Regions from separate parts of the Homo sapiens genome. Here region 1 is linked to region 2. Evidence: fine-mapped QTL for protein levels in blood plasma. A gene starts in region 2. The other region holds a variant in brackets. All regions are shown on one strand. Distances are from middle to middle.

Region 1 (5,000 bases), 42 kb after region 2:
TTGACATTCTTCACAGAACTAGAAAAAAATATATTTGAAAATTCACATGGAACCAAAAAAAAAAGAAAAGAGCCCAAATAGTCAAGGCAATTCTAAGCAAAAAGAACAAACCTGGAGGCATCACACGACCCAATTTCAAGCTATGCTACAGGGCTACAGTAACCAAAACAGCATGGTACTCGTACAGACACATGGAGCAATGGAACAGAATAGAGAACCCAGAAATAAGATCACACAGCTACAACTATCTGATCTTCAACAAAATTGACAAAACAAGGGGGAAGCATTCTCTATTTAATAAATGGTGCTAGGATAACTGGCTAGCCATATGCAGAAAATTAAAACTCCTTCCTTACACCATATACAAAAATTAACTCGAGATGGATTAAAGACTTAAATGTAAAACCCAAAACTATAAAAACCTCGGAAGACAACCTAGGCAATACCATTCTGGACAAAGGAATGAGGAAAGATTTCATGACAGAGACACCAAAAGCAATTGCAACAAAAGCAAAAATTGATGAATGAGATGTAATTAAACTAAAAACTTCTGCACAGCAAAAGAAACTATCAACAGAGTAAAGAGACAAATACATAATGGGAGAAAATTTTTGCAAACTGAATATGACAAAGATCTAATATCCAGCATCTATAAGGAGCTTAAACAAATTTACAAGAAAAGAACAAACAAACAACTCTATTAAAAAGTGGGCAAAGGACATGAACAGACAGTTCTCAAAAGAAAACATACATGCAGCCAACAATCATATGATAAAAAGCTCAACATCACTGATCATTAAAGAAATGCAAAACAAAACCACAGTGAGATACCATCTCACACCAGTCAGAATGGCTAATATTAGAAAGTTAAAAAAAATAACAGATGTGGCCAGGCACGGGGACTCACGCCTGTGATCTTAGCACTTTGGGAGGCTGAGGTGGGCGGATCATGAGGTCAGGAGTTTGAGATCAGCCTGGCCAACATGGTGAGACCCAGGCTCTACTAAAGATACAAAAAATTAGCTGGGCAGGAGTGGTGGCGAGCACCTGTAATCCCATCTACTTGGGAGACAGAGGCAGGAGAATCACTTGAACCCGGGAGATGGAGGTTGCGGTGAGCTGAAGTCAAGCCATTGCACTCCAGCCTGGGTGACGTGGCGAGACTCCGTCTCAAAAAAATAAAAATAAAAATAAATAAATAAATAACAGATGCTGGTGAAGTTACGAAGAAAAAGGAATGCTTATACACTGTTGGCGGAAGTGTAAATTAGTTCAACCATTGTAGAAGATGATGTGGCAATTCCTCAAAGACCTAAAAACAGAAATACCACTATCTAGCCAAGGGTATATAAATTGTTCTATTATAAAGACACATACATGCATATGTTCATTGCAGCACTATTCACAATAGCAAAGACATGGAATCAACCTAAATGCCCATCAATAGTAGACCGGATAAAGAAAATGTGGTGCATATGTACCATGGAATACTATGTGGCCATATAAAAGGAGATCATGTCCTTTGCAGGAACATGAATGGAGCTGGAGGCCATTATTCTTCACAAACTAACACAGGAACAGAAAACCAAAAACTGCATGTTCTTACTTATAAGTGGGAGCTAAATAATGAGAACACATGGACACATAGAGAGGAACAACACACATTGGGGCCTATCAGAGGGTGGAAAGTGAGAAGAGGGAGAGGATCAGAAAAAAACGATGGGTACTAGGCTTAATGCCTGAGTGATGAAATAACCTATACAACAAACCCCCACGACACAAGTTTACCTACATAACAAACCTGTACAGTTACCCCTGAACTTAAAAGTCAAATAACAAAAAAGAAAATGTGGTACATATAACCATAGAATACTACATGGCCATAAAAGAGAATGAAATCATGTCCTCCACAGCAACATGAATGGAGCTGGAGGTCATAACTTTAAGCAAATTAGTGCAGGAACAGAAAACCAAATATCACATGTTCTTAGTTATAAGTGGGAGCTAAACATTGAGTATATATGGACAAAAACATAGCAACAACAGACACTATGCGCTACTAGAGCAGGGAGAGAGGGAGGGGAGCGTGGGTCAAAAAACTACCTATTGGGTATTATGCTCATTACCAGGGTACAATATACCCATGTAACAAACCTGCGTATGTACTCCCTGTATCTAAAATAAAATTTGAAATTTAAAAAAAGAAAAGAGTTAAAGATACATTGAATTATCTGAAGATTTCTTCAAATACCAATTAAATCTGCAAGGACAATTAGTGTGATGTATATTATTTCCTGAAAAGTGTTCTTAATTAAAGCTTTGAGAACATTAAAAAAAGTTATGTTTATACAATACTGTAGTCTATTAAGTGTGCAATAGAATTAAGTCTATAAAAGCAATGTACTTATCTTAACTAAAAAATACTTAATTGCCTAAGGAATGCTAATGATTATATAAGCCTGAAGTGAGTTGTAATCTGTTTTCTGATGGGGAGGTCTTGCCTCAGTGTTGATGGCTGCTGACTGGTCAGAGTAGTGGTTGCTGAAGGCTAAAGTGGCTTTGGTAATTTCTTAAAATAGCAATGACATTTGCTGCATTGACTGACTCTTCCTGTTACAAAAGACTTCTCTGTAGCA[T/C]GTGATGCTGTTTGAAAGCATTTTTCCCACAACAGAACTTCTTTCAAAATTGAAGTCAATCCTCTCAAACCTTGCCGCTGCTTTATCAACTATGTTTATGGGATATTCAAAATGCTTCATTTTCATTTCAACATTGTTTACATCTTCACTAGGAGAAGATTCCAGCTCAAGAAACCATGTTCTTTGCTCATCCATAAGAAGCAACTCCTCATTCATTCACATTTTATCATGAGATTGCAGCGATTCTGTCATATCTCAGGCTTCACTTCCAATTCTAGTTCTCTTGCTGTTTCTACCACATCTTCAGTTACTTCCTTCACTGGAGTTTTGAACCCCTCTAAGTCATCCATGAGAGTTGGAATCATCTTCTTCCAAACTTTTGTTTAATGTTGATATTCAGACTTCCTCCCACAAGTCATGAATGTTCTTAATAACATCAAGAATGGTGAATCCTTTCCAGAACATTTTCAATTTATTTTGCCTAGATCCATAGGAGAAATCATTAAGAGAGTAATAGTCTTGCAACATGTATTTCTTAACTTGAAAATCTAACTTACCCCTTGATCCATGGGCTGCAGAATGAATGTTATATTAGCAGGCATGAAAACAACATTAATCTCCTTGTGTATCTCCATCAGAGCCTTGGGTGACCACGTACATTGCCAAGGAGCAGTAATATTTTGAAAGAAATCTTTTATTCTGAGCAGTAAGTCTCAACAGTGGGCTTAAAATATTCAGTAGCTATGTTGTAAACAGATGTGCTATTATGCAGACTTTCTGGCTCCATTTGTAGAACACGAGAAGATTAGACTTAGTGTAACTCTTAAGGGCCTTAGGATTTTCAGAATAGTAAATGAGCATTGGCTTCAACTTAAAGTCACCAGTTGCATTTGTACCTAACAAGAGAGTCAACCTGTCCTTTGATTCTTTGAAGCCAGACATTGACTTCTCTTCTCTAACTGTGAAAATTCTAAATGGCATCTTTTTCCAGGATCAGGCTGTTTCACTACATTGAAAATCTGTTGTTTAGTGTAACCACCTTTATTTTAGCTACTTCTGGATAACTTGCTGCAGCTTCGACACAGCACTTGCTGCTTCACCTTGTATTTTTTATGTTATTGAGACGACTTCTTTCCCTAAACTTTATGAACCAACATTTCTTAGCTTTAAATTTTTCTTCCACAGCTTCCTCACCTCTCTCAGCCTTTATAGAATTGAAAAGAGTTAAAGGCCTCACTCTGTATTAAGCTTTGGCTTTTAAGGGAATGTTGTGGCTGATTTGATCTTCTATCCAGACCACTAAAACTGTCTTCATATCAGCAATGAGGCTGTATTGCTTTCTTATTATGCGTGTGTTCACTGCAGTAGAATATTTAATTTCCTTCAATAACTTTTCCTTTGCATTCACAACTTGGCTAACTGGCACCAGAGGCCTAGCTTTTGGCCCATCTCAGCTGTTGACATGCCTTCTTTGCTAAGCTTAGTCAGTTCCAGATTTTGACTTAAAGTGAAAGACATGTGACTCCTCCTTTCACTTGAACACTTAAAGGGCATTGTAACGATATTAATTAGACTAGTTTCAATATTTTTTGTCTCAGGGAATAGAGAGGCCCAAGGAGAAAGAGAGAAACAGGGGAAAGGCCAGTCTGTGGAGCAGCCAGAAAACACACAACGTTTGTCAGTTATGTTCACCATCTTATGTGGGTATGGTTTTGTGGAGCCCCAAAACAATTACAATAGATCATTAATTACAGATAATCATAACATATATAATAATAATGAAAAAGTCTGAAATATTATGAGAATTACCAAAATGTGACACAGAGATACAAAGTGAGCACATGCTGTGGGAAAAATCGCACAAGCGGACTTTCTGAATGCAGGGTTGCCACAAACCTTCAATGTTTAAGAAACACAGTATTTGCAAAGCACAATAAAACAAGATACACTGGTATATAAATTTAGGTTGAAACATTCTAAATGCTAACTTAAAAATAAAAGTCCATGAACCAAGAGGCTTGAAAGGAGTTCACCTAGACAACCTCCTAGTGTATTCCTCCTAGCCAATCATGCATGAGCCATTGGTTCAAGAGATCCAAAATGAACTTCATAGCAGCATCTGGTACCACCCTAGAAATGGGGAACTACTCTTTTATTTATTTATTTATTTATTTATTTATTTATTTATTTATTTATTTATTTATTTATTGAGATAGAGTCTTACTCCATTATCCAGGCTGCAGTACAGTAGCACAATCACAGCTTACTGCCGCCTTGACCTCCTGGACCCAAGTGATCCTCCCACTTCAGCCTCCCAAGTAGTTGGGACCACAGGTTTGTGCCACTACACCCAGCTAATTTTTT
Region 2 (5,486 bases):
CGCTTCCAGGATATGCCTATTCACTTGTAAATTACTGCCGTCTGTCAAATACAGAGTAGCACCCACATGAAACATGTTAGCCATCTTAGAGGATTTGTTGCCACCTCTGTGGCCCACACACCTCATTACTGCTGCTTTCCACCTGCACCTTTTATACCAACTGTGAATTTTACCTCATATCATTTGGTAACACCTTAAGAAATATTGATTCTTAACTGAAGAGGCCACATTTCCATAGAGGGTATATAGAAATCAGTGAAGGGATATGGATTATTTTGAAAAATCTCCTTGATGTCTATGAAAAACTTGTACCTACCATCAATTTACCATCAACTTTTTCATGATCCTATTTGTACTCCTTTCCTTAATTCCCTCCCATCCACAAAATTTCTATAGCTTCCAGGTTGGTCAGAATGGGAAGGAATTATAGGCCACCTAGAAACCCATTCAGTAGGCAAGATTTGATGATCAGTGACTAGCTTTGGTCCTGGGAAAGAGTAACTTACACTTTCAAACACATACAAACCGTTTGCCTATGCAGAAAGTTAAAGTAGTATTGTTTTCAACACTTTAAGATGAGAGAGGCCATAAAACCTAGTTTCTTATAATGAATCTTTAAAAAGTACGTAAATAGCATATGTTTATTGTAAGAATACTAGAATACACAGATAAGCAAAATAAGGAAAATAAAAATCAGCTTTAATTAGATTTTTTGGATATAATTACAGTAACTCTGTGGTGCGAATTGTCTCAGACACTTTTTATTGGAGAGCAGGGGATAATGTGCAGCAGATAAAGTGCACTCTGCAGCCACTTTTTTCTTTTCTTTTCTTTTCTTTTTTTTTTTTGAGACGGAGTCTTGCTCTGTCACCCAAGCTGGAGTGCAGTGGCACGATCTCGGCTCACTGCAAGCTCTGCCTCCCGGGTTTGTACCATTCTCCTGCCTCAGCCTCCCAAACAGCTGGGACTACAGGCACCTGCCACCACGCCCGGCTAATTTTTTGTATTTTTAGTTGAGATGGGGTTTCACCGTGTTAGCCAGGATGGTCTTGATCTCCTGACCTCGTGATCCGCCCGCCTCAGCCTCCCAAAGTGCTGAGATTACAGGCGTGAGCCACCGCACCCAGCCCACTTTTTTCTTAATCATATATCCTAGACATCTTATCTTGCTATTAAATATTATTCCACAGAATTATTTTAATGGCTGTTTGGTTTTCCACAGCATTTGACACATAACTTATTTTTAACACACATCTCTCCTTGTGATATATTTTTAGTATTTTCTTTTTACATTATTATAAGCAAGGCTTTAATGACCATCACATATAAATATTAGCCTTTCTCAAAGTAAAACTATGATAATAGTGAGAATAAAATGTTAAGTATCCAATTGTTAAAAATTCAATGTTAAGTATTCAGGTAAATGTTAAGTACCTGAACAGGTAACATTGAGTCTATGAATATTTTCAGTCAGTCCCTCATTTATAAGCACCTGTGATTTTTTGGTTTAGAGTTTCATCCTGCATAAGGTTCACTGATGAGACAACATCTACTGGGACTACATCTAATCAAAGTGAGCATGATAATAGGTGTTCACATAACACGCGCTTTGCTTTGTGTGAGATAACTGTATTAGGATCAGCCTGGGGTACAAAAAGCAATGCAGATTAGAAATAGGCAATGTTGTGATTACAGATTAGAAAGATGGCAATGTTTTCAGCAATATAGTGCAAGTGTTTTGAAGTTTAGTAAAATCTCATTCTAGAAAGTCATCGAATGACTACGAAAAATTTTACTTAAGAAATATGAGCTATTGAAACAATGGCCTTATTATTTTATGAACCTTGAGAAGCAATATATCAAGATAATAGGGCACAATGTTTAAGAGCCAGACTGTGACACTGGGCTGCCTGGGTTTGAATCCCAGATCTGTTACTACTAGAAATTGATTAAGCTGATCTTGGTCATTTTACTGGCTGCTATCATCTGAATGTTTGTGTCCTGGCAAAATTCTTATGTTGATACTTAATCCTCAATGCAATAGTAATAAAAGGTACCCACCTTTTATTACATGACCTTTTAGGGGTCATGAGTGTGGAACTCTTATGAAAAGGATTAGTCTCCTTGTAAAAGAGGCTTGAGGGAGCTTGTTTGCTCCTTCCATCATGTGAAGACACATAGAGGACACCATCTATGAGAAACAGGCCCTCATCAGACACTGAATCTACTGGTGCCTTGATCTTAAACTTCCCAGCCTCTTGAACTATGAGTGATAAATTTATGTTGTTTATAAATTTCTCAGTCTAAGGTATTCTTTATAGCAGCCCCAATGGACTAAGACACTTACCTTTACTAGTGCCTCAATTTCCTTATTCATGTGAAAGGGGATAGTGCCAATTCAGAAACTTGCTGAAGGTAATAAATAACTCTGTAAGCATGAGGCACTTAGAACTGTGTCTGACTCATTGCAACCCATATGTAAATGCTAGGTATCATAATGAGGGTCAAGTTACAAAATTTCTCTGGCATTGAGAGGATCAGCTATAATTGTTTTAGCCCTTCCAGGACAAAGATAATGGTTAAACATAGTGGCACTATTCTACTTCCTTTTTTGCTAATTATACAAAACCTATTCTGAAAACCACATTTCATCGCCTGCTCAGAGTCTCCAGTTGGTGACCAAGAGTACATCTCTTTTCAAATAGCTGGATTAGGTCCTCATGCTGCTGTGGTCATTGCTGGTCATCTTTGGTGAGTTCAATAATTTGACTGAGAAGTGAGGTGGCAGCTGAATGAGGTCTACTGCTCCCAAAAGGTTGGAGGTTTTATTGGAGCCCAGGGACTGGTGGGGATGCTCAGGTCCTGCCTGCAGCTTGGGCTTCAAAGGCAGATGCAAAGAAGTAGGCTGAGGACAGTGAATTTGCAGCACATCCATTAAGCATTAAGCACAATGCTTAATGTTCAAGGTGGACCACTTTTCCATTTGCTGGTCATGAATTGCTATTTTGATATCTTAGATCTCATTGAGTAATATAATGTTCTCATAGTAAAATGTTCATAATATTAGCATTTAGCAATGCCCTTCTCCTCCATGAACACCGATTATTCAATTGTTATCTATAAGATTTGGGTTCAGCAGATGCATTGAGACCCTTTGCTAATATTCCTCTGTTTAATCGTGGACAATGAGGGAGATGACAGCTGCTGCTAGAAAATAAGATTCCTGGGTGAGTGCAGTGGCTCATACCTGTAATCCTAGCACTTTGGGAGTCCAAGGCTGGTGGATCACTTGAGGTCAGAGTTCGAGACCACCCCGGCCAACATGGTGAAACCTCATCTCTACTAAAAATACAAAAATTAGCCAGGCGTGGTGGTGGGCACCTGTAATTCCAGCTACTCGGGAAGCTGAGGCAGGAGAATTGCTTGAACCCGGGAGGTGGAGGTTGTGGTGAGCCAAGATCGCACCATTGTACTCCAGCCTGGGTGAGAGAGTAAATAAGATCCCTTTCTCTATGCTGTGTAGGCACTAAATAAATATTTGTTATTGGAATACAAAGGGCTCTAACGTGAAATATGGCCATAGGAAAGAGACTGATTTGTTGATTTCTTGGAACTCTCACAATGTATGTTTCCTGATGAGCCCTTTGTGATCGTGTTGTCATGTCTATCTACCACTTGAAAAGTCAGAGTGTGAGATAGAGTGGTGGGGATGGTGGAAGGAAAATGAAATCAAGGAGAGTCACTAAATATCCAACATGGGTATTCTCGACAATCCCTTTAGTCAAGCATTGGGTTTGCAACTTGCCTTTTGACTACAATGAATGACAGTTAGATGTGTGCTCGAGGGAGATTGAATTGTTAGTAATAAGAGATTAGGGAAATAGAAAAGAAAGGGAAAATGGAAAGAAGTTTTTGAGCAATTTACCAGAGTAATATAAATTTATAAATTATGAGGGCAAATGCTGTGTGCTAATCTCTGGCTTTTGATCTCCTCACAGATGCAGTCACTGAACAGGCAGGTGAGTCCTCCTTGTCTTTGTTGTTCTTGGTCTCTGGCATATCAGTCACCCCACTACCCCAGGATTCTATAGAGGTGGCTCTGGAAAGCCTGTGAAGATGTCCTAATATTACTGCCCTCTAGGCTGACATGTTCTGAGGTCACGCAGCCTGTTTCCAACACCACTTGCATGTCTGGGTGACCAGGTACCACCTAGCCTTCTCAAGACCCCACATGCTTGCCTCTTCCTTAAAAGCCTGGCTTTAAGAAGGGCAATAACATGCAGATTGAAGAAAAGAACAATTTGGAGAGAATTGTTTTCCTGCCCATAGGACTGTAATGCCTCTTTATTGTCTGGCTGAATGCTGAATGTTTTTACAGCTCTGAAAACAGCTATTTATAGAGGAATGTGTCAGAACTACAAACTTCTGCAGGGTCAGAATAAACATGTGTCCTCATTGCTTCTCTAGCTCTAGCTCAGGAATCAGCAAGCTTTTCCTGTAAAAGGCAAGAGAGTAAATAGGCTAAGCTTTTCAGGTGTGTGCCGTAACTACTCAATGCCATTGCTGTGGTAGCAGGAAAACAACCATAGACCATATGTAAACGAATGAGGATGGCTGTGTTCCAATAACATTTTATTTACCAAAACAGTGTTGGCCAGCTCACAGGCCATAATTTGCCAACCCGTGCTCTAGATTTAGTATTTAGTTTTGATTTTTTAAAAATGCATGTATTACTGTTCTAATCATAAAGAGTGAAATAAAGCTAATTTTATTTCACTCTTTCTGAGTTAAATCTGTGCTCAGTGAAGGAAGTCAATGGGAAAAATATTTTATTCTATATACAGAATCTTCACATGAGCCAAGACAAAATCTAAAGAAAGGGAGACTTGTTCCCTTGCCCATTGAATGCTGGCTACCAAGTGGAAGGGGCTCTTTGGGCTCTAAGGAACAGTGTGGGAAAAGCAGATCCTGCTGTCACCTTGAATGGAACAAGAGTGTCCAGGGAGACATTCAGGGGTCCTACCTGGAACTTGCTCAGGAGCAAGTCTGGTCTCTTGCATTCATTCTGTCCCACATAAGGTCCAGGAGTCCCACCCTGTGATACCCATCACTCCACTGTCTGTCTGGATGGAAATTAGAGGAAACCTCGATCAATATTCAGGAGGTTTCTGACCATTAGTGGAATCATGCCAAGACAGCAGGCTCCCTGAAGTGAATCACCTACGACCATTCAGAGAACAGGGCAACAGCCACTTCATTCTCTTTCTTTTCCTTTAGCAAGAGTTTCTCAGAAAACTGAGATGTTCTTCAGAAGTTTGAGATCTTTTCTTTTTAAAAAGAGTAAGAGAGAACTTAGTTCAGCATGATGTACTGGAAAGAGCAGGACTTATATAGCCAGAAAGACCAAATTGAAATCATGGCTTTGCTATATACCTGCTATGTAGGCTGGGCAGTCACTTGGCCTCTGAACCCCAGTCTTGGCTCTG

Alleles and levels. Positions count from the first base shown, and alleles are read on the strand shown. Strength reflects both the effect of a copy and how common the allele is.
For the plasma level of the protein whose gene starts at base 2,662 in region 2, allele T in region 1 goes with a higher level than allele C (weak association).

The links. PIP is the posterior inclusion probability: the model's chance that the variant is causal. Protein levels are from antibody-based Olink assays in UK Biobank. Linkage for the fine-mapping came from a reference panel and not from the study's own genotypes, which makes the PIPs less certain.
Region 1: its variant is fine-mapped to the plasma level of the FCRL2 protein (UK Biobank, PIP above 0.99).

The regions. Positions count from the first base shown.
Region 1 is chr1:157,732,090-157,737,089 of GRCh38, reverse strand. No RefSeq gene overlaps it. Among named protein-coding and RNA genes, the nearest start is that of FCRL3, 34 kb to the right of the region's middle. The variant T/C (reference allele first, on the strand shown) is at 2,637.
Region 2 is chr1:157,774,308-157,779,793 of GRCh38, reverse strand. It overlaps FCRL2 (Fc receptor like 2), which reads left to right and starts at 2,662. Exons shown (of 12, transcript NM_030764.4): 1 at 2,662-2,751; 2 at 3,999-4,019. The coding sequence starts at 2,721.